Regions from separate parts of the Homo sapiens genome. Here region 1 is linked to region 2. The links come from fine-mapping of genetic effects on gene expression. A gene starts in region 2. The other region holds a variant in brackets. All regions are shown on one strand. Distances are between the middles of the regions. Region 1 has its middle 46 kb from the start of PRR18. Region 2 holds the start of MPC1 (mitochondrial pyruvate carrier 1).

What was found. PIP is the estimated chance that this variant, and not a neighbour inherited with it, causes the effect.
Region 1: its variant is fine-mapped to the expression of MPC1 in whole blood (INTERVAL, PIP 0.97).

What each region holds. Positions count from the first base shown.
Region 1 is chr6:166,260,837-166,263,854 of GRCh38, reverse strand. No RefSeq gene overlaps it. Among named protein-coding and RNA genes, the nearest start is that of PRR18, 46 kb to the left of the region's middle. The variant G/A (reference allele first, on the strand shown) is at 1,752.
Region 2 is chr6:166,381,820-166,384,319 of GRCh38, reverse strand. MPC1 (mitochondrial pyruvate carrier 1) reads left to right here and starts at 1,380. Exons shown (of 5, transcript NM_016098.4): 1 at 1,380-1,514. The coding sequence starts at 1,444. MPC1-DT (MPC1 divergent transcript) reads right to left here and starts at 1,142. Exons shown (of 1, transcript NR_189630.1): 1 at 1-1,142. RefSeq lists silencers at 708-1,447, 1,598-1,697 and an enhancer at 2,058-2,237.

The sequences.
Region 1 (3,018 bases), 120 kb after region 2:
TGGGCCTGGAGATTGTCACCACTGTGAAACAGAGATGGGCTGCTGGTGGTCACTGGGATGTTGCAGAGTCCTCAAGAGCAGGTTTCCCTGGGGTGGAAATCTAGCCAGGCCCTGGGCAGGCTTACCAGGGGCCTCATCTGCATCCCCTCAGAGGTCTCTGAGATAAGGAGGGATGAGGGTACCCAGGACTTCTGAGGACACCTGTGAAGAGGTCTCTGGTAGCAGGACCCCGATACCCCCAAGAACACCCTAAAGATATGCCCTTGACTTGAAGAATGGAGCCATCAGCAGTGGAAAGAACACTTTCGATGTGTGATGGTGTTAAAATACATTCCACCTTTGTTTCTTGGAACTTAAAGCAAATTCTTGTAGAGGACGGTAACTGAAAGAGCTGCCCCTTAGTTTGGAGATGGGGTCCTATCATGGTGGAATCTTCCCCAAGCCCTCCCACCTCCATTCCAGGAAGAGACAAGAGCTGGGGTGTCATCCAGCAGGAAGAATGGGGGCGCTGCTCCCCTTCTGCTTGAGCCTGAGTTGGCAGGCTTGCTGTGGCTGCGGGGATGGCAGCTGCGCCTCCTGCACAACGCAGGATCACAGCCACAGCAGTGGGGACCTAGACAGCTGGGGCCACTAGACCAGGCCACCAGACAGACAGAGGGCTGGAGAAATGCAGAGGTGGCAGCAACACACGCAGGCAGGCAGGCAGGCATCAGGGGCTGTCAGCAAGAGAACCTAAGATGCTCGTGGCAGTAGAAGTGGGCCCCTGGAGCGGCCCGGCAGTTCCTGGGTTGGTTCTGCAGACCTGAAGCTCTCCCAGGTCCTCGAGGACCTCAGGCCTTGGCCTTCCTCAGCTCTCCTCAGAGGTTTGACCACTTACTCTGTCAAATGAGGTAATGAAAGGGAACTGGCGACAGGTTTAGAATGTATTACACAATAGGCCGTGAGCGGTGGCTCACGCCTGTAATCCCAGCACTTTAGGAGGCCGAGGCAGGTGGATCATGAGGTCAGGAGTTTGAGACCAGCCTGGCTGATATGGTGAAACCCCATCTCTAGTAAAAACACAAAAATTAGATGGGAATGGTGGCGTACGCCTGTAGTCCCAGCTTCTTAGGAGGCTGAGGCAGAAGAATCACTTGAACCCAGGAGGCAGAGGTTGCAGTGAACTGAGATCATGCCACTGCACTCCAGCCTGGGTGACAGAGCAAGACTCCGTCTCAAAAAAAAAAAAAAAAACAATGTATTATACAATAATAATTATCTATACGGAAATGTTACACTCAGGGCATGGGAATCAACTCCAGAAAGAAATCCAAAGTTCTAAAAGTATAAGATATCATAAGCCTGGAATAATGAAATGTGGGAGAGGAAGTGCTGAAGAATCAGGGCCCGCTCTCACATTTACACTCTGCACACACTATGCACTAATCACAAGCAAGGCCAATCGCGAAAAGCAGGGCTTTTTGAATGAAAAAATTCGTTCATCTCAACGGTGGAGATGTTCATTTTTGCTTATTGGAGATAAAATAATATAATCAGAGACATCATAGTTAAGCTTAACAAAATAACATTATTAAAAACTTTTATACACAATGAAAAGGAACTTTGTTTTGTAAGAGACAATGAAATCTGAAAACAATAAATGTAAAAAGATGATACAGGTTTACATCCAAAATGCACACGGATTGATATGAATGTATAGGCATGAACATATAATCCACACTTTGCTAAACAAGTAGTCAAAGGATACTTAC[G/A]CTTTACACATCAGCAGTAACCACGTATATTTATAGATTATGTGAAGCCTCATAACCTCTTCTTCGTGACGTAAAGGGCAGGTGTGACCATCCTCTTTCCACGCACTGGATACTGAGAAACGAGCTTGGTGCAGGCATCCTGGAAAGCAGTCTGGCTGTCATAATGGAAGCAGGGCCATTGTCCCTATGCTTTGGCTTCTTAGTGTTTTTTGAAAACTATAATTCAGGGGTATGGTGAAAATATTTGTACTAAAGCTATTTTTTTTTTTTTTTTGAGATGGAGTCTCGCTCTGTCACCCAGGCTGGAGTTCAATGGTGTGATCTCAGCTCACTGCAAGCTCTGCCTCCCGGGTTCACACCGTTCTCCTGCCTCAGCCCCCCGAACAGCTGGGACTACAGGCGCCCGCCACCACGCCTGGCTAATTTTTTTTGTATTTTTAGTAGAGACGGGGTTTCACCATGTTAGCCAGGATGGTCTCGATCTCCTGATCTCGTGATCAGCCCGCTTCGTCCTCCCAAAGTGCTGGGATTACAGGCGTGAACCACCGTGCCTGGCAGTACTAACGCTATTGATAACAGCCAAGTTAGCAATAACTCAAATGTGCAACCATTGAGAAATGCATGTATCACACTGCGTTATGCTTATCTTTTCACATAATGTATGTCTCCTGGCTAGATGAAAGTTTGGGGTTAGGAACCTTATCTCAGTTATTTTTATTTCCTTGGCATTTGATAGAATCTGGCACATAAACACTCAATCAATGTTTACCAAGAGGAAATTAGCTGAATTGAAGTAGGTAATTGGGTGTAACAAAGTTACCATAATTATGTAAATTATTATGTGCTACATGGAAATATATACACAATATAATTAAAAAATCAAAACACCAAACAAAATGTGTGCAGCAATTCCAACTAGGTAAATTATAGATGTCTATCATGAGAGAAAGCATCATTTGTAATAATGGTAAGACAAGTCTGGTTGGAATCACAGTGAGACCTTGTTCTAGTTTTTTAACAAGCCTCAGTTTGTTCACCTGCGTAATTAAATATCTACTTTGCAAGGCTGTGGTGACTATATATTCAGTTAAACCCACATGGAGTATAGAACAGAGTTTGGCTTATAATGTGTAAAGCAGATAATTGTTAAGTAATAATGAAATAGATGTTCTAAAGAAAATAGAACCCAGCATGGAGCCTGGCACTCGGTAGGTGCTCAATAAATAGAAATCACTTTTGTTATTTTTAGAAATAGAGGGGGACATAG
Region 2 (2,500 bases):
AACTCTTGACTTCAAGTGATCCACCTGCCTCAGCCTCCCAAAGTGCTGAGATTACAGGCGTGAGCCACCGCACCCGGCTACCAGAGGAATTTTGTTATATTTATTTGTTTTTTTTGGAGACAGGGTCTTGCTCTGTTGCCCAGGCTGGAATGCAATGGCGCAATCTTGGCTCATTGCAACTTCCGCCTCCCGGGTTCAAGCGATTCTTCTGTCTCAGCCTCCCAAGTAGCTGGGACTACAAGCACATGCCACCACGCCCAGCTAATTTTTTTATTTTTAGTAGAGAGGGGGTTTAACCGTATTGCCCAGGCTGGTCTCGAATTCCTGACCTCAGGTGATCCGCCCGCCTCGGCCTCCCAAAGTGCTGTGATTACAGGCGTCAGTCACCGCGCCCGGCCACCAGAGGCATTTTAAATGATCGTCCACATTAGAAACAAAACGAAACGAAACAACTTGGAAAAGTGAGCAAAAGCCTTCAATGTGTTCTTTTCTCTGCCTTTGTGATCCGAAAGTCGTGCTGCGGTTTATATACTCCTAGGCGAGGGTCGCGTGCTAATGATCCCTTTCTTTTCAATATGCACCCGCGGTGGGACTTACAGAACCTTTATTTTCAACACGTAAGCAGTCACGCTTCCTCGAGCCTAAGGCTTTGTGCTATTCTTAAATGCTTTCCTCCTCCGACGCTGCGGCTCCCTCCTGAGCCCGTAGCTGCAGCGCGTTGGTGAGGAGCGCCGGCCCTGGGTGCCGCCCGCCACCCTGGAGGGACCGGTCCGGGGGAAAGTGCTCGGGAGAAGCCAGGGGCCCCGGCTGCGGTCGCTGGCCCGGGGCTCTGCGCACTCCCCAGTGCCCGGAAACCGCAGGCTGGCCCAGCTTGCGGGCCGGGTCCGCCCACGTGGGTGTGGGAAGCGCAGGGGACGCGGGCCGCCCGGCCAAGGTGCCCTTGCCAGGAACCGGCGCAGACACAGGCCCTGGGCGGCGCGGGAACCCGGCCAGTCCCACCGCGCGCTGCGCCGCAGGGGCCCCACTGCAGGTCGCCCCAAGACCGCGCGACGCTCGGCAGGGCGCCCACAGTCCTGTGGGTCAGAGAAATGTCACCTCCACGTCCCCGCTGGCCGGGAGCCGCTGGAGCCTAGCAACCGCCTGCCAGCCCCGGCCCAGCCCCAGCCGTTTTACGGCAGCGGGCCCCGCCCCCGTGCGCCACCGAGGGCGGGAAGGAGGCGTGCGGCACGAGCCAGCCAGTCCGCGCCACCATCTCTGGCCCTGCGCCCTGTCATTGGCCGAGAGCCGGGCGGCGCGGCGCGGCCGTAAGGCGTGGCCGGGTGTCGTGAGGCGGGCCTTCGGGCTGGCTCGCCGTCGGCTGCCGGGGGGTTGGCCGGGGTGTCATTGGCTCTGGGAAGCGGCAGCAGAGGCAGGGACCACTCGGGGTCTGGTGTCGGCACAGCCATGGCGGGCGCGTTGGTGCGGAAAGCGGCGGACTATGTCCGAAGCAAGGATTTCCGGGACTACCTCATGAGGTGACGAGCGCCGCAGGCCGAACCCCGCAACCCGGAGGGGCTCCCGGGAGGCTGCGACCCGTGCAGTCCGCGACGAGGGCGGCCGCGAGGACGCGGTGGCCCCGGGCAGCGGGTGGGCCGGGGCCCAGGCGAGAGGGTGCGCTTGTCAGGGGGGCCCCACCCGGATCCCTCCCGGACCGCCACACCCCGAAGCGGACGGCGTAGAGAGCCGGTGACAGTGGGCGCCTTTCAGGGCGGGGGTGACAGTGGGCGCCCCTCAGGGCGGGGGTGACAGTGGGTGTCCTCTCCCGGCAGGGTGACAGTGGGCGCTCCTCAGGGCGGGGGTGACAGTGGGTGTCCTCTCCCGGCAGGGTGACAGTGGGCGCCCCTCAAGGCAGGGGTGACATTGAGTCCCCTTCAGGGAGTGGGTGACGGTGGGCGTCCCTCCTGGCCAAGGTGACACTGGGGACGCCTCTCCTGGTAGGCATAACAGTGGACGCCCTTCCCGGCCAGAGTGGCAGTGGGGACCTGGAGGGACGAAAGCGACGGCGCTCCTCAGGACAGGGTGACCATGGGGACGCCTCTCCCGGCAGGGGTGACAGTGGGCGCCCCTCAGGGCAGGGTGACCCGGCAGGGGTGACAGAGGCTCGTTCCTCTCCCATGGTTGGCAGTGGGCACGTCCCTCCGGGCCAGTTGACAGTGGCTCGCTCCTCCGGGCGGGAGTGGTTTCCTGGCCGGTTTCTACCAGATCCTCGGAGTGGGTCGCCGGTCACCTGCGGCCGTCCAGGTGTGCCAGAGGCGGCGACCTGGGTGTGGGGTGGGGAGACGCCAGCGGGAGGCGCTGCTGAGAGCGCGGCGCGGCGCTGTTGGAGCGGAGCTTCGGGTGCGCCCAGCGCGCTTCTGGGACAGCGGAAATAAAATGTGCTGGCCTTGGGTTCGCCTTTCGGTTTTCTCATTCTAAGGACTTTAAGCTTGGGAGGAAGTACAATTTAAGATGTTTTTATATA